4 linked regions of the Homo sapiens genome follow. The protein of the gene in region 3 interacts with the protein of the main gene of each other region in a pairwise test. Each region holds a gene or a part of one and is shown on either strand. Other genes may lie near its edges. The genes, in order: YES1, MISP, SOCS7 and SORBS3.

Region 1 (7,024 bases), on a different chromosome or scaffold from region 3:
TATAGAAATACTGTAAGAGTATATTCTAACAGTAATATTTGTGATATTACTATTTAATCAATAAAACTCTTACATTTTCCTGTATTTTGAGCCATGTTCTCTAGCTATTCTTTGTCGTCCAAACCTATCCCAGTCCATTCTTACTGACACTTCTGTATAATTTTTCTGAACCTCATACTTTTCAATTCAAAACACTTAATTTTTTTCCAGATGGTATTTTGGCAAAATGGGGAGAAAAGATGCTGAAAGATTACTTTTGAATCCTGGAAATCAACGAGGTATTTTCTTAGTAAGAGAGAGTGAAACAACTAAAGGTATGAATATTGTTATATTAGTATAAGTATAAAATTTCTTGGGGCAGTATTTTGAGAAAGATATAGTGAAAGTATTTATTTTTCACCCAGGTGCTTATTCCCTTTCTATTCGTGATTGGGATGAGATAAGGGGTGACAATGTGAAACACTACAAAATTAGGAAACTTGACAATGGTGGATACTATATCACAACCAGAGCACAATTTGATACTCTGCAGAAATTGGTGAAACACTACACAGGTATGTGAATATTTCAAAGGTAAAAATTATTTCTTCATATTCTAGTTTATGAGGACAAAATCCATATCCTCATTTCTCTTAAGATTTAACACACTTATTTACACATAATACATGCCCAATAAATGTCTGTTGTATTCTAAAGGGAGGAACAGGTAATACTTAGTACTTGCATTGTGCTACTCAGATAATGTGCTAATAGACTCTCATCATTTGGGTCCTTATATCTTACTGGCATAGTATTTACATTGGAGTTCATTTCACCACATGTACCTTATGAAAATAAACCTAAAAGCAAATATTTATGGGCACTTAGTAAGTAAAACTAAACATTGGGTAACAGAAAAAGCTATGTCAGAAGGATTACCTTCCTCTGCATGGGCTGGATCGCATAAGCTTTCCTAAAGTATAAATCCAGTGAAATTTGGTCTGACGATGCATTTTTCTTATCCTAGAAAATTAACCTATAGCAATTATAGACATTTTTGTCTTTCAAGGACCTCTGAAGGTATTTAATATTAGAATCTTCTGTCTCAAAATTTTTCATTACCAATTTGGCATATGAATGCACCTGAAAGTCTTTACATGATTAATACTAGGAGAGGGGATGTTTCCATGGTAATGTCTTCAATGACAGCTAGCTGCAAACTGAGTCTATCAAGTCAGCCAGCAATCTTGACATTGATCAAGCATGTTACCAAGCAGTGGCATCACTTGTAATTGCCTTTGTCACAATGTGAATTTATGTGGTTATTTTAGTGAGAATAGGAGAGAACATGTCTCATTTATAATAAGAAAGATTGTATAAGCAGAATTCATAAGTCAAGCTGTTATGAATCTAGGGTTCCCTGACTTTGTGTCTCCCTTATTTAAAAAAATCAGTCTCCTGTTAGGCATGTGGATTGTGCCTTTAATCCCAACTACTGATGCAGGAGGATCACTTGAGGCCAGGAGTTCAAGAACAGCCTGGGCAACATAGCAAGACCTCATCTCTTAAAAAAAAAAAAAAAAAAAAAAAAAAGGCCAGGCGTGGTGGCTCACTCCTGTAATCCCACCACTTTGGGAGGCCGAAACAGACAGATCACTTGAGGTCAGGAGTTTGAGACCAGCCTGGGCAACATGGCAAAACCCTATCTATTAAAATATAAAAAAATTTAGCCAGGCGTGGTGGCATGCACCTGTAGGCTCAGCTACTTGGGAGGCTGAGGCAGGAGAATCACTTGAACCTGGGAGGTGGAAGTTGCAGTGAGCTGAGACCACACCACTGCACTCCATCCTGGGCGACAGAGTGAGACTCCATCTCAAAAAAAAAAAAAGAAAAAATCTCCTAAATGATCCTAAATGAACTTTTTCCTTGATTTTTTGGTATGCCTCTTACAAATTAGTGGCTATTAGATAATAACATTTAATGATAACATTCTCTTTGAGAATTAATAAAACCCAGTGTACAAAGGCAGAACTTTGGAAGCAGACAGACCTAGATTTGAATCCCATCTCTACCATTTACTAACTGCAGGGCCTTAGGGGAAAGTTGCGTATGTTTTCAAAGCTTCATTTATATATGAGATACTTGTGAAGTGCTAATTTAGCACAATAGTGGAACATACTAAGTATTTAGTAAATAATAACTTAAAAAAATATATATTTTAAGTTATACTAAGTATTTAGTAAATATACTAACATATCTACTATATATTAGTATATACATACTAAGTAGTAAATACAATATATTTACTATATATTAGTATATACATACTAAGTAGTAAGTAATAACATGTATATATATATATATTTTTTTTTTTTTCGAGTCAGAATCTCACTGTGTCACCCAGGCTAGAGTGCAGTGGCGCAATTTTGGCTCACTGCAACCTCTGCCTCCTGGGTTCATGCGATCCATCTGCCTCAGCTTCCTTAGTAGCTGAGACTACAGGCATGCACCACCATGCCCGGCTAACTTTTGTATTTTTAGTAGAGACAGTGTTTCACTGTATTGGCCAGGCTAGTCTCGAACTCCTGACCTCGTGATTCATCTGCCTCAACCTCCCAAAGTGCTGGGATTACAGACGTGAGACACCTTGCCCGGCCTTAAAAATAAATTTTACAAAATGTTTCACTTATGTATATTTCATGTTTTGCTGCTTATGGACAACTCCCTTTTTGTTTTGTGCTTTTAGAGTAAAACTCGAAAGGACTTCTGTTTTTGTTTTTCTACAGTTTAAACTTAAAACATTGATACACTATATGCCCCTTAATTTTTGTAATTGATATTACAGTATAGTTTATTCATTTATCTAGAACATGCTGATGGTTTATGCCACAAGTTGACAACTGTGTGTCCAACTGTGAAACCTCAGACTCAAGGTCTAGCAAAAGATGCTTGGGAAATCCCTCGAGAATCTTTGCGACTAGAGGTTAAACTAGGACAAGGATGTTTCGGCGAAGTGTGGATGGGTAAGAAGCCTGAATTTTTGTTTTCTGTCATTGTTTAGCTGTGGATTAAAGTGCAACAATTTATGATAAAATATGTTTCAATATTTAAGAGAAGTGCTGTTCACTGAAGTTTGGTCTAAAATCCTTTAAAATATAAATTCCTAAAATGTGTTATTTCTTTAGGAACATGGAATGGAACCACGAAAGTAGCAATCAAAACACTAAAACCAGGTACAATGATGCCAGAAGCTTTCCTTCAAGAAGCTCAGATAATGAAAAAATTAAGACATGATAAACTTGTTCCACTATATGCTGTTGTTTCTGAAGAACCAATTTACATTGTCACTGAATTTATGTCAAAAGGTATGTATTAGTATCTCCTTAGGTATTTGTGTTGATAATGTTTTTAAGAGTCTTGATTTGTATGCATATAGACTTATACTGTTTTCTAATTTAAGATTTTTATGTAGACATATTTGGATAGAAGAAACCTGACACTTTGTTTAATGGAATAGTGATTATCCAGTTATTCCAGAGGATAGTATGACGTTTAAAAGGAAAAGTAGGCAGGCTGAATTAATTTTGAAATTAAGTTTGACTAAAACAAATGGAAAAGCTAGAAAGGTGAAAAATAGAAAGTGTTTGTACACATTTAATTAAAATGATAAAATCAGAAAGATACTTACATTTTTAGTACTAAAGCAAAGAAATAAGGTAAAGTTAAAATGAATTAGTTTTCTCATTTTAATATAAACATAATTCCTATATTCAGGACTTCTAGGAACTTTTTTCCCCACTGCTTTCTTTTTTTTTTTTTTTTTAAATAGAGACTGGGGTCTCAACTATGTTGCCCAGGCTGGTCTTGAACTCCTGGCCTCAGGCAGTCCTCCCTTTTTGGCCTCCCAAAGTGCTGGTATTACCAGCATGAGCCACTGTGCCTGGCCTCCCCACTACCTTCAATGGAAGTTTCTTCATTTTCCTTAACTCTAGACCACAAGATGGGATCTTCAGTAACAGGGTTAGTTAGGGGGAGGATAAAGAGAAGATTGATACTCTTTCCTCTTTTTCCCTGTGCAGATGGTACTTAGAGGAACTAGTAAGTCAGCAGATAAGCTGACAGGCCTGATTTTTATGTGTTTGATTTCATCTGCTTTATTATTATTTTTACTCTTGAACCAATAATATACAGTAGTCACTAATTATGTCACCCTCTCCAGTGGTGTGTCTTGGTCAATGATGTAGTTCCATCTAGTGGTGACAAGGACAACTACAAGTTACATATTTGCTGTAGGAAAATTTTTCCCCTCAAAAGGGGACTGAAACCAAAAGTTAAGAAATTATACAGCCTATTAATTGATAGCCAGAACACACCTAAAGACCCAAAGCACCTGGCGCTCTTTGGAAGGAATGTCTACTGCAAACAGTTGCCAAATATGACATTTTTTTGTTTGTTTGCTTGTTTGTTTGTTGTTTTTGTTTTTTTGTGAGGTGGGGCCTCACTCTATCCCCCAGGGTGGAGTGCAGTCACATTTCTCTGCAGCTTGGACCTCCCTGGGCTCAAGCGATCCTCTCATCTCAGCCTCCTGAGTAGCTGGGATTACAGGTGCATGCCACCACACATAGATAATTTGTGTATTTTTCTACAGATGGGATTTCACCCTGTTTCCCAGGCTAGTTTGGAACTCCTGGGATCAAGCAATCAGCCTGCCTTGGCCTCCCAAAGTGCTGGGATTACAGGTGTGAGCCACCACACCCAGCCCAAATATGCCCTTTCAAAGAGTATATTAGATGAACCAGAGGGGAAGGGAGGGCCAGGCATGGTGGCTGACCTGAGCAACATGGTGAAACCCCATCTCTACAAAAACTAAAAAAATTAGCAGGACGTGGTTGCACACACATGTATTCCCTACTCAGGAGGCTGAGGCATGAGGATTGCTTGAGCCCAGGAGGTTAAGGCCATAGTGAGCTGTGATTGTGCCACTGCACTCCCATCTGGGGTGAAAAAATGAGACTGTCTCAAAAAAGAAAAAAAAAAAAAGGAGAAAAGGACAGGGAAGATGTTTAAATCAAGATATTGGAAGCAGGCCAGGCACAGTGGTTCATGCCTCCAATCCCAGCGCTTTGGGAGGCCGAGGCAGGCAGATCACTTGAGGTCAGGAGTTCGATCCCAGCCTGGCCAACATAGCGAAACCCCGTCTCTGCTAAAAATACAAAAAACAGCTGGGCGTGGTGGCTTGTGCCTGTAGTTCCAGCTGCTCGGGAGGCTGAGGCACGAGAATGGCTTGAGCTAGGGAGGCAGAGGTTGCAGTGAGCCAAGATGACACCGCTGCACTCCAGCCTGGGTGACTGAGTGAGACTCCGTTTCAAATAAATAAAGACTTTAACAATTAAAAAAGATATTGGAACATAAGAAATATAATGAAGGTAAGGCTAATAGCCCATTTAGCTCTGTATATTAATTTTAAGAATTATTTAATTGGGAGAACATGGTAAAATTCTGTGTTGTCAGACCACTGGGTACAATTATTTCCAGGCGGGAGAGATTTAGAATACAAGATAACAAAAGTCCTTTCTATTTTTAAAACTCTTTAATTCCTCATTTTGGTATTCACTTAGCACTTGTCCCTTTATAATCTGTCCAAACTCATTGTCCCATGCACTCCAGCATAAACCCACTGTTCTGCTCTTTGTTTTCATGATTTTTTCATGTTTTCTCTTTGACCTGGAATTTGGTCTCCCTAGCTCTGGACCAGTCCACCAACTACACTTCCCCGATCCAGTTTATGGTCAGGCATTCCATTTAGTTGTCATTTCTATTTAGTCTCCTTTAATCTAGAGCCATTCCTCAACCTTCCTCTGTCTTCCATAGCATTGTTACTTCTGAAGAGAATAGACCACTTTTATGTTTTAAATGTGCCTTAATTTGGTTTTGTGTGATGTTTTCTCTTGATTATAAGCCTTAACAAATAATAGTGAAGCCGTAATCAGACTTCTAGCCTTTTTCTTTGCTGTTATTCATAGTACTTTGTAGTTTTCAGAGAGAGAGCTTGGTCACAGCAGTAGTTCCACAGCGACTCATTTAGCTACCTATATTTAGTTTTAACCACACCCAAGATATTCCTAGTTGTCTGAATTCTTGATTCAGATTTACTTAAAAATATGTAAGTATTTAATACTACTTTTTGAATCAGAATTGGGATATTGATCAAAGCGAGGAAAAAATGCCTCTTGTCAGGTAAAGTTAATGCATTTTCTTTTTTTGCATGTGTTATCAGAAGTTTTCAAAATTTCAGCTTAGAGACCTCTTCTAGGACCTAGATAATTATTTGGAAACTGCAAAACTGCACAAAATTTAAAAAAAATGAAAAGCTAAGAAGTTTTGTGTTGTGATTTGGGGTGGAGGAGTATTCATTTCAATCCTAATATAAGATTTGCTTATTTTTTATGAATATCTTGCTGTCTGTTACAGGAAGCTTATTAGATTTCCTTAAGGAAGGAGATGGAAAGTATTTGAAGCTTCCACAGCTGGTTGATATGGCTGCTCAGGTATCTGTATATATACATGTATCCATTTGAATTAAAAGTGTAAATTAAAATGTGGAATAATCTTACCAGAATATTATAGTATGTGTAGTGAAATGGTGGGATTTTATTTTTATTTTTTATTTTTTAGAGACAGCGTCTCATTCTGTCACCCAGGGTGGAATGCAGTGGTGCACTGATAGCTCCGTGCTTGAAGAGCCTTGAATTCTTGGGCTCTAGCAATCCTCTCGCCTCAGCCTCCTGGGTAGCTAGGACTGCAGGCACAGGCCACCATTCCCAGCTAATTTAAAAAATTATTTTTTTTGTAGACACAGGGATCTCTCTGTGTTGCTTAGGCTAGTCTCAAAGTCCTTGGCTCAAAGGATCCTCCCACCTCAGCCTCCCAAAGTATTGGGATTACCTGGCCAATAATGGAATTTTAGAACTGGCAGGAACGTCAGAGATAATCCAATGTGAGCTCTTAATGATACAGATTAATGAAGTATCAAAAGATGAGAGGT
Region 2 (6,879 bases), on a different chromosome or scaffold from region 3:
ATGTTGGCCAGGCTGGTCTTGAACTCCTGACTTCAGGTGATCCGCCTGCCTCGGCCTCCCAAAGTGCAGGGATTACAGGCGTGAGCCACCGTGTCCAGCAGACATCATCTTTCATAGTTGAGGAAAGGAAGCCTCACCTGAAGACACAGGGATCTCAAAAGCTTGAGCTCCTGACTCCTAAAAAAAGCACTGTCGGCTGGGCACAGGGGCTCAGGCCTGTAATCCCAGCTACTTGGGAGGCTGAGGTGGGAGAATCACTTGAACCTGTGAGGTGGAGGTTGCGGTGAGCTGAGATTGTGCCATTGCACTCCAGCCTGGGTGACAGAGAAAGACCCTGTCTCAAAAGAAAAACAAACCCCCACAAAGCAGGACTGTCGCTCCCGGGCCACCAAGGCTATTATTTAGATCTGCTGCCTTTACACCAACCAGCAGCATTTTTTTTTGTTTTTAAACAGACAGGGTCGGCCAGGCACAGTGGCTCACACCTGTAATCCCAGCACTTTGGCGGATCACGAGGTCAGGAGATCGAGACCATCCTGGCTAAAATGGTGAAACCCCATCTCTACTAAAAATACAAAAAAAATTAACCGGGTGTGCTGGCGGGCGCCTGTAGTCCCAGCTACTCAGGAGGCTGAGGCAGGAGAATGCTGTGAACCCGGGAGGTGGAGCTTGCAGGGAGCTGAGATCGCACCATTGCACTCCAGCCTGGTGACAGAGCTAGACTCCGCCTCAAAAAAAAAAAAAAAGAAAAAAAGAAAAAAAAAGAAAAACTTAGCCCCTCTCTGAACTGGAAAGTGGCATCAAACAGCATAAAGTGGAGAGACCGTGGGGAGCCGTGTTGAAACTACACGCAATGTGTCATGCAATCTTCCGCGCGTATCAAATGTCAGAAACTAAAATAGGGGAAACATTGAAAACCAGGCGGCATTGGTGAATAAATCCCACACAAACAGCTGAGCTTCCTCCCAAAGCGTGACGCACAGATGGCTCCCCTGACCCGAGGCCTCCTCCTCCGTGGACGCCGCCTGCCCAGCTCACGGAAGGCCTTGCCTTCTCCCACCCGAAACCGTCAGCCCAGGCCTCGCTCTCGCCTGCTGTGGCCACAGGTCAGCACCCTTCCTGCAGCCCAGAGTCTGGTATACAGCAGGCGCCTAATAAATACTGGCTGGGCAAACACCACTCATCCCAGCTGCTCAGACGTGGGGGTCGGGCTCATTGCGGAATGCAGACCGGCTCCACCGTGCCTTCTGGCCCTGAAGGGCTGGGCAGGTCCACGCCCTGCACCCTGGAGCTCCCCGGGGAGGGCGGGTGTAGGAATGTTTGCCCAGTGAGTGGACAGACGTTTACACAGCGGGATTTATAACCCACATCAGACGTCAACTCCGGGAGAAAGGGAGCTGTCCGCCCAGCCTCGAGCAGGTGCCGGGTCTCCCAGTGGGGTCGGGGTTGGGTGGGGATGAAGGCACGCATCCTCCTCTGCTCATTCCTCCCCAGTGATTCACTGAAGCCAGCGGGTGGGGCCTGGGGTCCAGCTCTTGGGTTCAAGGCCACTGGGCCCCCTCCCCTGCTGCCTGTGCCTCAGTGCCCACCCCCGCCCCCCGCTTTTTTTTTTGAGATAGAGTCTCCCTCTGTCGCCCAGGCTGGAGTGCAGTGGCGCGATCTCCATTCACTGCAACCTCTGCCTCCCGGATTCACACCATTCTCCTGCCTCAGCCTCCCAAGTAGCTGGGACTACAGGCGCCCGCCACCACGCCCGGCTAAGTTTTGTATTTTTAGTAGAGATGGGGTTTCACTGTGTCGGCCAAAAAAACCCCTGGATCCACGGCGGCTCTCATGGCCGGCATTCTTGGGCAGCGGCGCTGCCCTCGGGGGAAGAGCCCCAGGACGGAAGATGGCCCCTGCAAGGCCCGGCGGTGGCTAAGGACCTCGGCGTCCTGAGACTCTTCCTGCAACACCTTGGAACCGTTTTCGACTCCGGTTTTCGAGAGAGGGAGCTGGGACCCAGAGAGGAGAACCTGCTCATCTGAGGTCACACAGCGATGACAGAGCAAGTGTCTGAAGCCAGTTTTCAGACTTTGCTCCAAATCACCCCCTCCTACAGGAAGCCCCCTGGGTTGCTCCTCCCAGCCTCACCCTGAACTCTGTTGATACCAGAATGAAACTGGGTTTATGGACCCTGGTGCCACACCTCCTTCCTCATCAGCCAGTTGGCTCTATGTGAGGGGCAAAGGTTCCCTTGTGGGGCCGAGACTCAGACAAGGAGGCCATGCAGAAGGGAGGGCCCCGTTCCTTTTTCCCATCCCTCAGGGTTGCAGTCACCCTTGAGTCATCTCAGCTCCTTGGGCTCCTGGGCGGAGCTCCACCGGCAGACGCTGGGCCGAGTCCCTGCTGGCTGCCCGGGATCCCAGGCTACCACCTCACCCCCACCCGAGGACCCAGGCCAAGTCCCCAGCCCCGGCCTGAGACTCCTTCCGCCTGTACTCAGCCACCCCTCCTCCGTGTCCCCAAACCAGCCCCCAGCCCCACGGGGGTGTTTACTGCCCAGAGCCTCCCAGTCAGGGGCCTGGTGGGACGGATAAGCATCTCTCCAGAAGCCTCTGGAATTCCCAGAACCATGGAGGGGCCCCTCTGGCCTCTGACCATGGGGGTGCCAACCCGGCCCCTCCCTTGGAGGGCTCTGGGATTTGGGGTTCAAAAGCCCCAGCAGAGTTCAGGGACAAGGGCCTCTCTGCTCTCCCAGTGGGTGCCCTTGAGGCCCCAGAGTACCTAGCGGGGGCAGAGGGAAAGGTGCCTCAGGGAGGCTCCGAGGGTGACGGGGTGGGGCAGGGGGCCTCCCTGGATCCCAAGTGCCGCCAGGCAAGCAGACCCCGCCCACAGACACATGACGCTCCCACGCCAAATGTGGATCCAACCGCCCCACACAGGATCCCCGCCCGGCCCGGCCCGGGGCGCCCCCAGCCTCACCTGCCGGCTCCCGGCTCCACAGTCTGCAGCCTCCACTCTGACTCCTCGATGGGCACAGAGGCCTCCCAGCTCCGCCCTGCCCGCCAGGTTGCCAGGGAACAGAGGCCCCACCCAGGGGAGGCAGGTGTGCCCCCTCCCCCCAGCCCCACCTGGGATCAGGAAACAAAGTCCAGAGGAGGAGGAGGGAGAAAGAGGATACCAGGCTGGGCAAGGGCGGGCACCGTGCCCGCTGCCGGCTGCCCCTCCACCCCCAGGGCCTCCAGGTGGCCCCGAGGAGCCAGAACTCAGCCGAAACCTCCCTTGGCTGCCTGGCCCTCCCACCGCCTCTCAGCACCGCTCAGAGAGGGTCAGCAGGTGTCCAGGGCCACACAGCAGCTCAGCGTGCACAGTGGCCTGTGTCTCCTGGGGGGCCGGAGGGGCTGAGTCCCAATCCCGTCCGTGCCTTCTGGCCCAGCCCACCCCTTGGGGCAACTCCCCTAGATGGCCCCCTTCTTGCATAAACCAGGTTTGGCAGACTCGGGGGGGTTTGGTGTGGCCTGGGTTCTGATCCCACCTGACCTCTCTTAGCCCTGTTTTCTCCTCCGGGACGTGGGGGAACATCACGCCCGGGCTCCCTCAGGGCTGCTGGGAGGAATTCCCTAGGCCCCATCCACATAAAAACCCATACGAGGGGGCCGGACTTGGTGGCTCACACCTGTAATCCCAGCACTTTGGGAGGCCGAGGCGGGCGGATCACTTGAGGCCAGGAGTTCGAGACCAGCCTGGCCAACATGGCGAAACCCCGTCTCTACTAAAAATACAAAATTTAGCGGGGTATGGTGGCACGCTATTATAATCCCAGCTACTTGGGAGGCTGAGGCAGAAGAATCACTTGAACCCAGGAGTTGGAGGTTGCAGTGAGCCGAGATCACACCACTGCACTCCAGCCTGGGCGACAAGAGCAAAACTCCAACTCAAAAAAAAAAAAAAAAAAAAAAAAAAAAGAACCGCACGAGGCCGTCAAAAGACCCAGGCCACCCCGAGAGATGGGGACGCAGAGGCCCTCAGGCGCCCATGGTCCTCCTGGATTCTTAGTCAAGGTGCAGAGGCCTTGCTGGGACTGTGGGGAGCCCAGCATCTGTGGGGAAGTCGGGCCACTGGGCCTAGCGCCGTCTATGAGGGCAGGGAACACAGCTGAGGGGGCAGGGACTTCAGTTCCCCAGGCTGGGGCTCTGTCCTGACCTACGCCAGAGGGGCTGCTTGTGGAGCCCCTCTGAACCTCAGTCTCTTCTTCGAGTAAAAAGGCCCCCAGCTACGAATCCAGCAGGGCTGCTCAGGAGGGGGGTGCTTTTTTTGTGTTTTTTTTTTGAGACGGAGTCTCGCTCTTGTCACCCAGGCTGGAGTGCAGTGGCACGATCTCGGCTCACGGCAACCTCCCCTGTTCAAGCAATTCTCCTGCCTCAGCTTCCCTAGTAGCTGGGATTACTGGCATGAGCCACCACGCCCAGCTATTTTTGTATTTTTAGTAGAGACAGGGTTTTGCCACGTTAGCCAGGCTGGTCTCGAACTCCTGACCTCAGGTGATGCCCCCGCCTCAGCCTCCCAAAGTGCTGGGATTACAGGCGCGAGCCACGGCGCCTGGCCAAGATGGGGGTGTTTAAGGACAAATCTGGATAAAGGGCCCCCAAAGGACAGCGTGGCACCTAACGCTGCTGGGTGTGTGAAAGCTCAGGGTGCGCGGCCTCACGGCGCCTCCCACCGCCGCCTCCCGCCACCCCCTTCACGTCCTTTTCTCCCTGGCTTGTAGATAGGGAAACGGAGGTACGGAAAGCTTAAAATCGCGCCTCAGGAATGGCGGGGGTTTAGGCTGGAATTGGAACCTGAGTTCCCTCAGCAGTGCTCTCCACCACACTCACCACCTCATCGGGGAAAACTGAGGCCCCAGCAGGGTGGAGGCTGGATCGCCCATGAGCTGGGGGCACTGTGGAGACGTCCCACGCCCAGGCTGAGGCTGGCCTCCCACTCAGGGCTCCGAAGGCCTATTTTATTTTATTTGAGACAGAGTCTCGCTCTGTCGCCCAGGTTGGAGTGCAGTGGCACGATCTCAGCTCACTGCAGCCTCCGCCTCCCAGGTTCAAGCGATTCTCCTGCCTCAGCCTCCTGAATAGCTAGGATTACAGGCGTGAGCCACCACGCCCGGCTAAGTTTTTGTATTTTTAGTAGAGACAGGGTTTCAGTATGTTGGCCAGGATGGTATCGATCTCTTGACCTTGTGATCCGCCCACCTCGGCCTCCCAAAGTACTAGGATTGCAGGTGTGAAACACCGTGCCCGGCCACGAAGGCTTATTTTACAGATGGGAAAACTGAGGCCCAGAGGAGGCAGCGACTTCTCCAAGACTACAGCGTGAGAGAGTGGGGCTGGCGGGGCAGCACCTTCCCGTGAGCATGACACTGGTCTCTACAGACACCTCCTCCCCAGGCCTCCTGTGTATTTCCCAGGGGCCGGCTTCTCTACAGAGCTTGTGGGTGTCCAGGGGACCCTCTGTCATCACCCAGGGGCTGTGAGCCCAGCAAAGGGAGGAACAAAGGACAGGACGGGGCGGCCGCAGAACCCGAGGGCCCCCCGGGAAGCCAGTCCTGCCCCCCCACAGCAGCCCCTTACAGCCAGGCCTTACCTGCACAGTGGGGATTCCAGCGCCTCCCACCACCCCAAGGCGCTCAGGGTGAGCGGGTGCAGGCAGGTGAAGCCAGCACACCGCAACCCTGCTCAGCCTCCCTTTAATGGCTCAAAGGCCGGCAGGCCCCACCCCCTGGCCTGGCCACGCCTTCCTCGCCAGGTTGAAAGGCAAGAACTCCAGGAACTGGGGCTGTTCACGCTGTTTATTTGCTTCTCTGGGAAAATCAAGAACATCGGGGGCCTCGTCACACACCAGAAGCAGAGGGGGTTATAGCAAGGGCACTTCAGCGAAGGCTCGCGGCTCGAGGGACTCAGGCAGACTCCAGGGAGGAGGAGGGGGTTCCACGGCTGACGCCCAGGTCACCCCCGAGAGGGCCTCTCCTCCCAGCCACCCAGGGGCAGAGCGGAGGCAGGGACCCAGGCTCCCATCCGAGGTGGCCCCTGTACCTGCCCTGCCGAGGCTGCAGGTGGTGACTGGACCAGGAGGTGGCCTGAGCACTGGGCACCAGGCTGGAGGTCCCTAGGGCAGGGACCAAGTTGGGGCCTGGTTGTCCAAAGCCAACGTGTGAGACGGTGTCTGTGAGAATGTGCACGAATGTGCCTCTGGGGACGAGTGTAGCTGCCCCCAGGAGGGAAGCCCCTTGCCACTTCCAATGAGAGGGGGCTGGGGGCAGGCTCACATTGGTCTGGGTGGCAAATGAGGGTCTCCTGCTCCAACCCAAGAGGCTTCCTGTCCCAGGCTGTGTCCCTCCCTCCACTGCCCGGACGTGCTCCAAGCCCAGTAGAGCTGGCAGGTGGGGCCTGATCTCGGGGTATGGTTGGGAAGACCCAGGACCCTGGTCCAAGCAGGATGGAGAAGAGGCCGGGGGCGGCCCCTGGGGTCCCCAAATTAGCACCAGGAGGAAGGAGGGCCCAGTGGGGGCGGGAGCTCGGGACAAGGAGTGGCTCACTCGGTCCCTGCCCTGTGCAGGGGGCAGGTCAATGACCCCTGGTTCGCCCCGTCTAGAAGATAGCCCAGGGGTTACCGGCCCCTCCCGGGTGGGGGCATGTCCCCGGGGTTCCCCCTCCCCCAGACTCCATTGTCCACTGGTTGGGCCCACACAGGGCATAGGGGCACAGCAGAGGGGCCTGTCCTCCACCCAAGACCTTTAGCCCCCAAAGAGGCACGGCCTCACCCCAACTGCCTGAGATTGGGGGGCCAGCGCCTTGGCCAGGGAACCCCATAGAGCCTCACTTCCAGGGCCTGAGCAGGCCTCAG
Region 3 (7,024 bases):
AAAAGAGGAAATTATCACCATGCTGCCTGGGAGAAAGTGACTATCAGACAAAGAAATTCAGACACACCTGTAATCCAAGCCCTTTGGGAGGCCGAGGCGGGTGGATCACCTGAGGTCAGGAGTTTGAGACCAGCCTGGCCAACAGAATAAAACACTGTTTCTACTAAAAATACAAAAATTAGCCAGGCCTGGTGGCACATGCCTGTAATCCCAGCTACATAGGAGGCTGAGGCAGAAGAATCACTTGAACCCAGGAGGCGGAGGTTGCAGTGAGCTGAGATCGCACCACTGCACTCCAGCCTAGGCAACAGAGCGAGACTCTGTCTCAAAAAAAAAAAAAGAAAGAAATTCAGAACAGAACAGTTACAGGATCAACACTAAATTCACCCTCTTTGTATACGTGATTTAACAAAATATCTCTAGATGATAAGTTTAACTACAAACAAAGCTTGTGAGAATTTGCCTAATGGTCCTAGGTTCTTTCTTCCTTTTACCTAAAGAGTTTTACCGGCTCATTTCTCGGGAGCCTCTCCAACAGTTTTGTTCAGGCCCTCCTATTTAGGAAACAAGATGCTGCTGACAAGACTTTTAAATGGAACCCTTACTCTCCCTTCCCTACCCCCTCCATTTCTTCTAGTGACGGAAATCAGCGCTCATATCAATATTCAACTGAGTCTAAGATAATTTTTCCCCTATTTGTAGTTCCATTCCTATGAATCTCTTCCACAAAAAAGTCAGACAGCAAAGGTAGAGCAAATCAAGGGGGGAAGAAGCCTCTCTTACCAGTATCTCTTACCTCTGTAGTGCTCCATTCTAGTGTGGTGGGTGATACCCTGTGATCGGAAACTGAGGCTCAGGATGTAACGAGGATCAGAACTGTCTCGTACCAGGAAAGAACCATCTGGTTTCCCTTTCAGCTTCATCTCTGCATCTTCCCAATTCATTGGCCCCCAATACCAACCACACTATCAAAGACAAGAAGCAGTCCACTAGTTATCAGGACAGAGAAATGTCAAAGTTTTCAGTGCAATCTATCTTAACATGGGAGAACCCTCTGCATTCTCTCCAAAATATTTCAATAGGTAAAAGCCACTTACAAGTGTCTCAACCATTAGCAATGAACATCAGGCTCACTATACTTTTAGCCCTCCAAAGTAACAGAATAATAATTCTGGCCGTGAGCTGTGGCTCATGCCTGTAATCCCAACACTTTGGGAGGCTGAGGCGGGTGGATCACTTGAGGTCAGGAGTTCGAGACCAGCCTGGCCAACATGGTGAAAACCCATCTCTACTAAAAATACAAAAATTAGCTGGGTTTGGTGGCACATGCCTGTAATCCCAGCTATTCAGGAGGCTGAGGCAGAAGAATCGCTTGAACCCAGGAGGTGGAGGTTGCAGTGAGCTGGTATTGCGCCACTGTACTCCAGCCTGGGTTACACAGTGAGACTCTGTGTCAAAAAAACAAAAAACAAAAAACAAAATGGCTGGGCGCAGTGGTTCACACCTGTAATCCCAGCACTTTGGGAGGCCAAGGCAGGTGGCTCACCTGAGGTCAGGAGTTCAAGACCAGCCTGGCCAACATGGTGAAACCCCATTTCTACTAAAAATACAGTAATTAGCTGGGCATGGTGGTGGGCGCCTGTAATACCAGCTACTCAGGAGACTGAGGCAGGAGAATTGCTTGAACCCAGGAGGCGGAGTTTTCAGTAAGCCGAGATTGCGCCACTGCACTCCAGCCTGGGCAACAAGAGCGAAACTCAGTCTCAAAAACAAAACAAGACAACAACAACAACAAAAAACAAAGAATAATAATTCTACAATTTTGTTACCAAAGACCCTACCAAGAAAAGAAGAGGGAACTGGGTCAGTTAATCTATCAAAATCAGCTTAGACTATGTAAAACATTTCTCCAACAACCTTTATCATGTCCAAATTTTTTCCCCAAATTCAATTTTATTACATCTCATGGAACTAATAGCAGGAGCACACTGTTTTGTCACTGTAAATATGGAAGCAAGTAAACTATTCTTCCTCTGAAAACAATAAACAGGGGCTGGGTGTGGTGGCTTACGCCTATAATCCTAGAGCTTTGGGAGGCAGAGGCAAGAGGATCACGTTGAGCCCAGGAGTTCAAGACCAGCCTGGGAAACTGCAAGACCAGTCTCTACAAAAAATATAAATAAATTTTAGCTGGGCTTGGTCGTGCATGCCTGCAGTCCTAGCTACTCAGGAGGCTGAGGCAGAAGGATCCTTTGGCCCAGGAGTTTGAGCCTACAGTGAGCTATGATTATGCCACCACACCCTAGCCTGGGCAACAGAGCCAGACCCTGTCTCTAAAAATAAATAAACACATAAATAAAGGTGTGTCCGAATACAGAATTTAGCTAATGGGAGGAGAAGTGACCTGCCAGTCCTTAGGTACCACCTACCTTCTCCAACTCTCGAAGGCTGGCTGCAAAGCTGCTCGAGTCAGGCCGGTAGAGGGGACACTGGAGGTGCTGTGGGGGTTGGCTGTGCAGGGATTCAGCTGCTCGGATGGGAGCAATCCGGGGAAATGCATCTGCAGGGCAAGACAGTGGTGGTCACTTGTTTACCCTCACTGCTCCCAACCACAAATAGACCCTCCCCCAAAAACAGAGGATGCTAACTGAAGAGGGCAAGGCATTAGAAGCTAAGCTGGAAAGGGTAGAAGCCAAAGCAGTGGCAAAGAGCTGGATGGGCTGGAACAAAAAGCTGTGTGGGCTTGTGTAAGCTGTGAAGGATGGGTGGGGGCACTTGACCCCAAGAAAGGGGGAGGGGAGCTGCTCACTAACCTTACTAAGGTGACTACTTCAGGGGCTTCACCAGCCTAGAGCGATTCCAACTTCTCCCACCTCGAAGTGAAGTGCCGATAAGGCAGCCTTGGAAATAGTGACTCGCTTACTTGCCCAGGAAGAGTAATGATTTTGCCAGGCAAGTAGAAAAGAATGCTGATTTCATTCATTTTATTCCTTGGGTACTGTAAGCTGGCAAAGCAGGTATGGGCTGCTAAATGCTTGGTACTTATTTACAAGGCTGCAGTAAATACTAAAAGCTTAGAAAAACCATAGAATGCTGAAAACCACCAACATATTAAACCTCACTATCCTGAAATTAAGGCAGTTTCTTAAGTGATATCTACTCAAGGATTGCAAAACAGTCTCAGCAGCAAAGACTGATGAAAAATTCAGTAGTCTTTCATCCCTAACAAAAATCAGATTGACCTCCATAAAGAAAACGGGTTAGGAAAACCAGTTCTCCGCCTCATTTCTAAGGAGTCTGGTCCAGCCAAGGGGAAAAGATTTAAACTTTCTACTAAGCTGTTATTTCCATAAATAGATTTCTCCCATCCTTCTATGGTAGAAAGTATCACTTTGTACTCCCAACTCTTACAAGTCTTGCCTCTAAACTAAGCTAACCTGGGGCATGGGGTGGAGGAGGCGGAGGTAGGGGGAAAGACTGCAAGGAAGACCCCATCGGAGCCACAAGGACAGATGTAGGCAGCGTCCCACTGATATCATCTAGAAGAGAGAACAAAAGCAAGAGGTTCAGAAATGTGAGCACAGAATGAGCACGCTGAAGGCAGAGGAGAGGGAGAAGGACTATCAGGCTGCCCTCTGGGGCAGGATGGCCCAACCTTCACCCAGTCTTTTTGCACAGAGGGCAACAATCATCTTACTCTGTTTTGCTTTTGGAAAGCAGGGTAGTAAGGATATTCCTAATGCAGCCCAATAGCAGTGGGTTCAAGGCAAGATAAATGTAAACTGAATTAATATATGTATAGTAAGTATTACAGCATGCGGGTGAGACCCATTTAATTGCTTAGGGAGATGACGGGGTGCTGAGAAAGAGCTGGGAAATAATTGAGTCATCATCGGAAACCCAGAAGCGTGGTCGGCCCCCAGCAAAGAACAAGTCCCTGGAGCTCACCCTCCCACTAGGCAAGAAGGTGGAGAGGGGAAGAAACTATACCTAGGAGGCTGAGGCTTCTTCTCGGAGGAGGAGGGGGAGTTGGAGGGTGTGGAGAGGTCAGGCCCCGCTGAGAAATGTCCACATCCACAAGCGACACAGTTTCACCTGAGGGATTCATGGAGCAAGCAAGTTACAGAAGCGCCTTGCCCAAAGCTGATGCAGAAAGCAAAGGGAAGCAAAGGGCAAGCAGGCGAGGCTGGGGGTCTGCTGCTCTCAGAAAGCTCAAAACCTAATGCCCCCAGGGCTGAAATCACCCCAACACCAGGAAGTCAATTTTTAAATTCTATCATTCCTTTGCCCTGTTAAGGGTCAAGGATTCTTTAGGACAAAACCATGGGACTGACAGTGGAAAAACCATCTAATTCTGGTTCCGCCACTGACTTACAACGTACCCTCAAACAAGGGGTCTTCTTTATCCAATAGAACCCATACCATTTATTTTTTCAGAATTGTGTATCAATTTCTGCCTTAGGAAGCAAGCCAAGTGGCTTGTTATATGCCCAAACAGACATGGAAAGCAAGGGCCAGAAAACCTAAGAACTGTACGGTAAGCTGAATGCAGATAAAGTTCCCAATGTTAGTCCTAACTTCTTCCTAGAGGGCAGTCCATATCTTGATTTTCCAGAGTATTCACACATAAGAGAATCTACCTGAATAAGATATCTGTTCTTAACAGCTGAGGCTACAAAGGCTGAAAGTACAATTTATAGTCCTAAAAATTAACTACTTTCACAGTCAGACAAAAGTCAGGTAATCTAAGAGGCAGCTTCTCCATAGGAACTTGGTGGGAGGAGGCACATGGCCTCTCTTCTTCCCAGCATGTCATGCAGTTCTGTTCCCTGCCATATACAATACTCCTTGCCACCCAACTCTGTCTATTCCCTCTCCACTTGAGTCACGAGAGGATGAAAGGTATTTTATTAATATGAACACAAGCTGATAGCCAGGAATACGGTTATTTTGGCAGGCCTGATGCACAAGTCAGAACTCAGGATTTCTCTAATTTAGCCCTTACGGTGTTCCTTCCAACACCTTTTTTTTTAATTCAGGGCTGAATGAGCCCCTCAGCTAGTATTTTAAATGTTTCCCCGTTAAGAAAATGAGGTGACCAATATCTACCAAAGGAAACTGGGCTTTCAGAACCTAAATACACAGTTTTTTTACAAAGCTCTTGAATACTAATTAAGATAAACAGAAAAGCTCTTCTAAAAGTCATCAGTGAGACCAGGTGCAGTGGGTCACACCTGTAATTCCAACACTTTGGGAGGCCAAGGTAGGCGAATCACTTGCACTCAGGAGTTCAAGACCAGCCTGGGCAACACGTTAAGACCCCGTCTCTACAAAAATATAAAAATTATTCAGGTATGGTGGTGCATGCCTATAGTCCCAGCTATTCTGGAGGCTGAGGTGGGAGGATCGTTTGGGCCTAGGAGGTCGAGGCTGCAGTAAGCTGAGACTGCACCATTGCACTCCAGCCTGGGAGACAAAGTGAGGCCCTGTGTCAAAAATAAACAAAAGCCATCAGTGGAAGTTCTAGAAAGCTGGTACCAGACTCACCATACAGCTTGGTAACTGAAAGCCTGGCTGCCCAGAGCAATGCGATGGAGCCAGACAAGTGTATTTCCTGACAGGCCAGAGCAGTCTAGACTATTGGTAGAGCACTTAACATAAAGGACGTCATTCAAGAGGGCTGAGGCTGACCTGAACCTCAAACTACAAATGTAGGTGGTGTTCCTTTTTTTTTTTTGAGACAGAGGCTCAGTCGCTCAGGCTGGAGTGCAGTGGCAAAATCTCTGCTTACTGCAACCTCAGCCTCTCGGGTTCAAGCGATTCTCCTGCCTCGGCCTCCCGAGTAGCTGGACTACAGGCGTGCGGCACCATGCCCCAGCTAATTTTTTGTATTTTTAGTAGAGACGGGGTTTCACACCATGTTGGCCAGGCTGGTCTGAAACACCTGACCTCAGATGATCTGCTCACTTCAACCTCCCAAAGTGCTGGGATTATAGGCATGAGCCACCGTGACCGTGACCAAGCCATGTTCCTTACTTTAATGAGGAAACAACTATTAACTAGAAAGACATGGTATCGCAAGATAAGATTTTTTAATTCTGGGCTTGGGTAAGAACAGAGACCTCCTTCTCCACTACAGTAGATGCCTATACAGGTACCAATTCACTTGTTTTGACAGTTCACAGCAGTCTACCCAGCTGCAAGTCTCATTGGCCTGCTTAACATTTTCCTGGAAGCATCCATTCCCAAATCGTAAGTCTTCCAATCACCTTTTTGAGGGACATGATATCCAAAGGAGTTTGAGATTGGGATTTTTTTTAAAGGCTTCTCAGTCACAACCAATGAGAAGTACTCAGTTTCTGAGACATGGGCAAAGCCCCACTTTTCTCCAGCTTATTCATGCAGGAGCTTCACCTGTGACTGACATAACAGAAGGTCTCCCTCTCTGAAAAAGCTCCCTACGAAACGAGAAGGCAGTTACCCATCATCCAAAGGAGATTCTACAGCCTTCCTAGTTTAGCAACTGTGTTCCCTGCTGCAAGAGGGCAGACTTAAATTAGATACAATAAAGAAGTCTAACAGCTGCAGGAACTGCAAGCCCCTAAAAAGACAAGAGCTCATGTAATCCCCTTTGCCCAAAAAAGTCTTTAAAAATAGACCAGATAATCATGGATCATTTTTATGAGATAACCCATGAACTCCCTTGGAAGCAGAGACAGAAATTGTATGACTTCTAGAGAGTCTTTTATGCACTGTGAGCCCATAAATTTGTAATTCCTAGTTTTAATTTATATGTGATGACCCTGAACTAAGCACTGCATAACTGCTAGGGCCACCCAGGCCACCTAATTACCAACAAGCAGCCTTTACCTCCAACTATAAAGCATCCAAAGTCAAGAACACATTCCATACCATAAAAATAGCCTCACCCCAAACCCACTAAGCATGGAATGAAGGAAATAACTGCAGACACGCCTACAGCTCCCTGTGATGCATCTGTAAGTGTTTCCCAACAGGTCTCAGA
Region 4 (7,024 bases), on a different chromosome or scaffold from region 3:
AGAATTTTCCATAGGGATATATGGAGTGGGCATTACTGAAGTGAAGAACTCCAAGAGAAAAGATGGAAGCCAGTCCAATTAGAGAGTTTAAGTTGGACCACAGAAGAAAATGAGGCGTTCCAAGCAGCAAGGGGAACTTGGGGAACTGTTCCAAAACTGAGCATTCACCCTTTTCTCACTGCTGAGAACCGGGTGTCCCTGGGTTCCAGCGTCTCGGTTCTTCCTCCCCATCTACCCCAGCCGGAGCCCAGAATCCTCACGTTCTCTTTGCTTCACTCTGCCCATAAAAATCAAGCAGCCAATAAACCATTTCACACAAAGATAGAAACGACTGGCGGAGTGAAATACTGTATATACTTTGTGAAATTTCAGGACCAAGTGGATCATCGTGTAAGCAAGGGAGGCCTAATGATACCTATCAAAACAAGAGCCTGAATTAAACAACAACCCAACCCATGGGTCAAAGAGGAAGTCACAGACGAGATGAGAAAACAGTCAAGAGTTGATGAAAAATCAAAATGTGTGAGATGCAGTTAAAGCAGCATTCTAGGGAAAAATGTTTCAAATCAATAGTCTAAACTTTCATCCTAAGAAACTTAGAAAAATAACAAATTAAACCAAAAGCAAGCAACAATAAGCAAATAAGAAGCAGAACTCAATGAAATCGAAAACAAAAACGAGAGAAAAACATGAATAAAATCCAAAGATCAAGTAAATTAATAAAGCTCTAGACAGAATAAGAGAAGACGCAAATTGCCAACATCAGGAATGAAAGAGAACATATCAGCCGGGCACAGTGGCTCACGCTTGTAACCCAAGCACTTTGGGAGGCTGAGGCGGGTGGATCACCTGAGGTCAGGAGTTCGAGACCAGCCAGGCCAATGTATAGTGAAACCTCATCTCTACTAAAAAATTACAAAAATTATCTGGGCGTGGTGGCGCATTCCTGTAGTCCCAGCTACTTAGGAAGCTGGGGCAGGAGAATCCCTTGAACCAGGGAGGTGGAGGTTGCAGTGCACCAAGATCCCGCCACTGCACTCCAGCCTGGACAGCAGAGCAAGACTCTGTCTCTCCAAAAAAAAAAAAAAGAAAGAGAAGACATCACTACATATTTTACTGACATGAAAAGGATAGTAAGAGACTATAATGAACACCTTTATGCCAGTAATTTGGATAACTTGACATATTTTAAAAGTCACAAATAGCAAAGATAACCTATCGCCCTTTATCTGTCAAGCCCAGAACCTGTCTCTGGAATCAAAAGACCTGGATTCAGATTCTGGATCTTTTACTTAATAACTTTTCACTGAACCTTGGCATCCCCATCTGTAAAACAGAGATAATCTATCACTCTCTGGGCAGTGAGAGGAACCAGGGCGGTAATACACCTGAAAGAGGTTATGCGTGTATACGTGATTTATAAACTGTCGCACACTTCCCACTCTTGCTAGTTGCCATTAGGATGATTTCCAAAGACAGCTTTAGAAAGACGGATCTGAATGGTGAAAGTCTGGGACACGAATGGTTGAGGAGCTGGCTGCTGGGTCCTCCCCTGGGCTAGGCTCCACCCTCATTTAGCAAACATTTCCTGGGGTCATGCACAGCATTGGGCCAAGCCCTGTGGGGGCCAAGGACAGTTCCGAGACACGCCCCAGCCCCTCACAGTTTTTTGCTTTAGGAAACCCAAGGTTTGCACTAAGTCTCTCCCAACCCCTGCGCCCTCCCAGCCCAGCCCCACTTGCTCTTGTCTCTCCTGCTCACCTCCACATAATTAGCAGGGAAGATGCCCAGGCGGCCGTGGTGCTCTCCCTCCAGCCAGTTCTTGTCCACCTCCTTGTGGATGTAGACAATGTCACCCTTCTGCAGAGTCAGCTCCCTGCAGGTGGGGACGAGGACCGCAGGGTAAGCTGAAGCCTTCCCAAGCCTCCTTCCCTTCAGACCCTGCCCAACACACCCCAGTTCTCTCACCCCTTGGGGATGCCCACTGCAGCCCAGTCCCCCTCCCCATCCCCCTCTGGGATGGCAGAGATTGCCTTGGGTGGAAGGGGAGGGGGAGGAGGGCGCTTACTTGGGGGACTGCGCCTGGAAGTCAAACTTGAGCCTGGCGGCCTTTCTCTAGGCAGGGGAGAGGACAGAGTGGGCTCTCTCAGTTGGGCGGGTGGCAGATCCAGGATGGCAGCCTTGGGACCACTCCAGGTCCCCCACACCTGGTCCCCTCCTTACCTTCTTCTCTTCCCTCCTGGCTGGGCTGCCCCCTCCGTTAGAGGCACTAGGGTCTGTGGAGAAGCACAACCTCAGCTTGGGGAGGCCATACCTGGGGGATGGGGTTGCACCCCCACCTAGGGCAGGCACTGGCAGAAGCAAGGGGCTCTGTGACCTGCCACCCCTGGGGCACCAACATGCCTGGTGGGTGGGCATCTCCGTGAGAAAGAGAGCAGGGCTGGGTCCTTACCTCGGGTTGAGGAAGGGTAGACAAAGTCCCTCCGACCTAGGAAGGGGCTTCCTCCATCAGCCATTTTGTGGGGACTCAGGGACCGGGCGGAACCCAGGTAAGGTGCATGTGGGTAGCTGGAGCTCCAGGCTGAGGCCGGGCTGCACGGGGCACAGAGACTGAGCCTCCAGCCTGGGGCTCCGCACCCCACCCTGGTCACCCCTAGACCGCTCTGACCCCCCATCGCCCCCATCCCTGCCACCTCCTCCCAGGGCGTCTCCCGGGTCCTGGGCTCTCCACAGGATGTCCTACTTCCCGAGTCGCTGCGCGGGGAAGGGTGAGGCCCGGCAGGGCCCAGCGGGAGTGCCTGGGCCGTGGCGGGGCCGCCCTAACCGCGCTGCGCCCCCGGCGGCCGCGACCCCGGTCCTCTGCTAGGAGTTAGCTGCCCTCGGTGGCGCGGGAACGGCGCCCCGCAGAGAGTGGCGCTGCGGTCCCTCCCGGACACGGCTCTGCGGTTCCTTCCTCCCCCGGCTGGGCCCCGCGATCGCCCCCGTCCGCCCCGCCCGGCCGCGCCACGTTCCCTCCCGCCCGGCCTGGGACAGCCCCCTTCCTCCTCCCGCGTCTCCCACTCACCCGGCCGGGGGCCGCTGCTCCGGGGCCCGTCGGGGCGCCGGCGAGCTCTGCGCGGGGAAACGGCGCAATCAGGGCCCGCGACCCCGGGACCCAGCGGCAGCCGAGGCCGCCGCCTCCGGAAAAGTTCGCGGCTCGGGAGGGGAGGAGAGCGGGCGGGACGCGGGGTCCTAGAGGCGCCCGCGCGGCCGATCCCGGGAGCGGGGCGGGAACTAGGGGAAGGGGCGGGGGTCCCCGAGGCTGGGGCCCGGGGGCCGGACGGGGCGGGCGCCCGGTCGTCGGGCTGACGTGGAGTCCGCTTAGAAAGGCTCCTCGGGGTCACTTGCGAAAGTCGACGCCCTGTATTTTATTTATGGAGGAGCGAGCCCGCCAGCGCCCAGGAGGGCCCGAGGCCGGTGCGCGCCGCTGGAGGCCGGACCTCGGCTGCCCGTCCTCCGCCCAGCCCAGCCGCCGAGGCTCCCGGCTCGCCCCGACCCTGCGGTCGCCGGCGTGCCCCGCGGGTGAACCCTGGGGGCTGGTACCTTGGGGGACGGCAGTCGGGTCTCAATTGCCCGCAGGTCCTTGTCCAGCTCGGCGCTCAGCTCGGCCAGCTCTCTCTCCAGCAGCACCTGGGGGCGGGGAGAGGCTGGGCAGTGAGGGGCAGCGCACCGTGGGGGTGGGAGGCAGCGGTCAAAGATCGACTGTGAAAAGCAAGGCCAGCGCACCGGGCCGGCGTAAGGGCAGGCCTCAGCGCACGGGCCGGGCTCCTGCCAGGAGGTGTGGCCCAGGGTGCCAAGAGGGCATCCCCGCCACGGCCTCTCACCTGCCCAGCACGCCCCGGGAGTGCCTACGCGCTTCCTGATCCCGCGATTCCGCAGTCCTGCCAGTTTCTGCCAAGTTGTGTCTCTGTTACAGCACCAATGGGGTTCCCCATTTCCTCTCCCATCTTCTCCCGCCCTCCAAGGCCTGGCTTCACTGTGCCCATCCAGGTTCCCCCGCCACCCCAGGGACCGGAGCCCCCACCCCCACGCTGCTTCCTGCCAGCCTCTGCTATGGGTCTTCGCCGAATCAGGCCCTCGGAGCTTCTCAAGGGTCCAGCTCCACCTCCAAGAATATTTCCTGATAATCCCAGTGCGCACTGACCACTCCCTTTTCTGCTCCTGCTTTGGCCAACACATATTTATTTAACACATGTTTACTGAGCGCCTCCTGTATGCCAGCCACTGTCCTGAGTGCTGGCATTACAGAAATAAACCATGTGGGACTGGAGAGAGAGCTCTTAGTTCGTGGCCTATGCCCATGGTTACTGGGGCCACCAAAACCCTAATCTCCCTGGTTTATCAGGCTGCTGTCCCCAGCACCCTGCAGCACTCACCTCAATGGGCTGGGAGGGCTTCTCACCAGGGTCGTCCACCAGCGGTTTCTTGGGCTGAAGGGTAGAAAGGGTGTGTCAGAGCAGGTGAACTCACTTTCCAAAATGTATCAGCTGAGGGTGCGTGCACACCCCGAGAGCCAGCCAGCACTCACCCTCTGCCCAGTCTCTAGTTCCTGCAGAAACTGGTTCCAGGACTCTTCCGTCCAGACATTGTCTACTTTTTCCCGGCGTCTGAGCACCTGCGTGGAGGTGGGTGGGTGTCAGCTTGTGAAGAGGGCTACTGGGACACTGGCCAGGCTCAAAATGCAGGCTTGCAGGCCCCTGCCCTTCCCCTGGGCCCACGGTGTCCTCCAAGGGATTCAAGCTGAAAGGACATCGTGGCATAGGGTCTTGGCCATACGGCATACAGCTGGGGCTGACCAGGGACTATGCTGGGTGGGCTACCTGATTTGAGGGCTGCAGCACAGTGGAGAATGCTCCAGGTCTGTAGTTGAAGGTGCTTCTAGGTAACTCTTCAGAGTGGTCCCAGCTTCTTCTAAAGAAAGGGAAGGACATCTCTTCAGCTTCCTTTTAGGGAGACTGAGGCAGAAGCCAGCACACAGCCCTCTCACCCTGCCCTTGTCCCTGCTGTGGGGTCTACTCTGCCTCTGACTGCCCTGCCGTTACTCTGGAAGCAAGATTAAACTGTGGAAGTGTGTGAGCTCCAAGCTTAAATTCCAGCTCTACTGTTTAGTGGATGTGTAACCTTTGAACAAGTTACTGATCCCTCAGAGCCTCAGGCTCAGAACCTGTAATATAGAAATGATTTGGTGAGAGAACATATATGAGGTGCCCGGGAGAAGGCCTCACACACATATTTGCTCCAGGTGTGGCCCGACCCTCTCCTGTGGGCCTTTTTGCTAAAGTGTCCTGTATGTGTGTTTGGTCTGGCCCCATGACTGTGGCTATGTGCGTCTGTGCAGCTTTGAAGAAGCTGGTCTTTCTGGGTGCTGTGGCTGAGTGATCGTACACCCATGGGCAAGGAAAGCCAGAGGCAGCTCTGCCCTGCAGCTCTGGCCAAGTTATTTCTGCTCCCTGGGCCTAGTTCCATGAGGGTGCTGGATTCAGTGACTCTGTCTGTGAGACCACCCCAGCCACTGCAGTACAGCATGGACACATCTGCCTTAGCTCCCCTCCAGGGCCCCTTGCTGGCTGGCTTACATGGAATGTTCCAGCCTCTGTTTGAAAGTTTCCACTGAGAGGAACCACTGCATCAGGCTTATCAAATAATACAACGTCTGACCAAGGGTTGGGATTTGTTGGCTGTAATAATGACTCCATTCTGATTTTGGTAATAATAAAAGTGACTGTGAGAATGTCATTCCTAACCTAAGGAAGCAGTAATCATAATTTTTTTTTTTTTTGATACGGAGTCTCGCTCTGTCGCCCAGGCTGGAGTGCAGTGGCGCAATCCCGGCTCACTGCAAGCTCCGCCTCCTGGGTTCATGCCATTCTCCTACCTCAGCCTCCCGAGTAGATGGGACTACAGGCACCCGCCACCGCGCCCGGCTAATTTTTTGTATTGTTTTTAGTAGAGACGGGGTTTCACCATGTTAGCCAGGATGGTCTCGATCTCCTGACCTCGTGATCCGCCCGCCTCAGCCTCCAAAAGTGCTGGGATTACAGGCGTGAGCCACCACACCCAGCCTTGTAATCATAATTAAGCCTGTATATTACTAATGTTTGTGCAGGCTTGCTATGTGCAAAACATGATGCATGATACACACATGATCACACTGAACCCTCTGGGCATTACCACTTAAAAGATGGGGACACAGAGGCTCAGACTGAGTGAGGTACCCACAGTCACATGGCTAGTGGCAGTGCACAGGCTTAAACCCAGAACTCAGCGTCCAAATCTTGAGCCCTTTGCCTCTGAACCTTATCGGTGATGCCCAGAGCTACGGGCCAGTTTCAGCCATGCTAATGAGACGAGTCCTTCCCTGCAAGGGAATAAGAAACTCAAGGATTTAACTCTGAGAGCAAAGATCCTGATTCCCACGGTGGTGCTGACCCCGCCAGGGCCCCAGCAGCCGGGCGGAGCCTGTGGTTTGCACAGAGGAAAGGAATGTCATCCTTATCCCTCCAAGGGGCTCCTCTCTCTGTGCTATCAGGCTGGAACTTGGGTTCTTCCATATCCCTTGTTTTCTCTCAGGTTTCAAAGTGGACAGCGCCAGGTCCAAGTTCCCCTCAACAGTTCTGTCCACGGCTGTCCTGGCCGCCCCACTCCCGGTCTCATAAGACCGGTGGGATCTTTGGGGCAAAGAGTTCCTGCTGCTGACCACAAACGCATCACAGGCGTTCCTGGCCAGGAGCGGGTGCCAGGTCCACTCTTGCCTACCCTTCCCCCCTTGACCCTGTAGGGAAGAGAGTCTATGGGGGTGGTGGAGACCCAGAGATGGGACAGAGCCCAGACGGACACGGAAGTGAGACCCCACTCCTGGCTGGGCTCCGAGGCTGTGCCGGCTGTGGTCACGAGGGGGCGCCCGTCCCATGGTGTCTCGCGGGCCGCGCCCCTCCGCAGCCCTCGGCCCCGCCCCACTGTGCTCACCCACTGGAAGATGTTGCCG

Evidence for each region.
Region 1: the proteins of SOCS7 (region 3) and YES1 interact in binary tests that used the Homo sapiens proteins (3 or more experiments, as listed by UniProt).
Region 2: the proteins of SOCS7 (region 3) and MISP interact in binary tests that used the Homo sapiens proteins (3 or more experiments, as listed by UniProt).
Region 4: the proteins of SOCS7 (region 3) and SORBS3 interact in binary tests that used the Homo sapiens proteins (3 or more experiments, as listed by UniProt).

The regions. Positions count from the first base shown.
Region 1 is NC_000018.10:739,238-746,261, reverse strand, and holds part of YES1 (tyrosine-protein kinase Yes), read left to right. Parts: intron 1-210; coding exon 211-314; intron 315-404; coding exon 405-554; intron 555-2,846; coding exon 2,847-3,002; intron 3,003-3,164; coding exon 3,165-3,344; intron 3,345-6,450; coding exon 6,451-6,527; intron 6,528-7,024. UniProt on the Homo sapiens protein: Non-receptor protein tyrosine kinase that is involved in the regulation of cell growth and survival, apoptosis, cell-cell adhesion, cytoskeleton remodeling, and differentiation.
Region 2 is NC_000019.10:747,257-754,135, reverse strand, and holds the start of MISP (mitotic interactor and substrate of PLK1), read right to left. Parts: upstream 3,025-6,879; 5' UTR 2,965-3,024; intron 1-2,964. UniProt on the Homo sapiens protein: Plays a role in mitotic spindle orientation and mitotic progression.
Region 3 is NC_000017.11:38,361,823-38,368,846, reverse strand, and holds part of SOCS7 (suppressor of cytokine signaling 7), read right to left. Parts: intron 4,096-7,024; coding exon 3,991-4,095; intron 3,540-3,990; coding exon 3,438-3,539; intron 3,006-3,437; exon of another isoform or gene 2,814-3,005; intron 2,561-2,813; coding exon 2,430-2,560; intron 966-2,429; coding exon 797-965; intron 1-796. UniProt on the Homo sapiens protein: Substrate-recognition component of a cullin-5-RING E3 ubiquitin-protein ligase complex (ECS complex, also named CRL5 complex), which mediates the ubiquitination and subsequent proteasomal degradation of target proteins, such as DAB1 and IRS1.
Region 4 is NC_000008.11:22,561,913-22,568,936, reverse strand, and holds part of SORBS3 (vinexin), read right to left. Parts: coding exon 7,006-7,024; intron 4,951-7,005; coding exon 4,860-4,950; intron 4,655-4,859; coding exon 4,568-4,654; intron 4,470-4,567; coding exon 4,416-4,469; intron 4,129-4,415; exon of another isoform or gene 4,064-4,128; intron 3,931-4,063; exon of another isoform or gene 3,864-3,930; intron 3,670-3,863; coding exon 3,583-3,669; intron 3,209-3,582; exon of another isoform or gene 3,112-3,208; coding exon 3,065-3,111; intron 2,949-3,064; exon of another isoform or gene 2,694-2,948; intron 2,593-2,693; coding exon 2,453-2,592; intron 2,277-2,452; coding exon 2,224-2,276; intron 2,116-2,223; coding exon 2,069-2,115; intron 1,877-2,068; coding exon 1,762-1,876; intron 1-1,761. UniProt on the Homo sapiens protein: Vinexin alpha isoform promotes up-regulation of actin stress fiber formation. Vinexin beta isoform plays a role in cell spreading and enhances the activation of JNK/SAPK in response to EGF stimulation by using its third SH3 domain.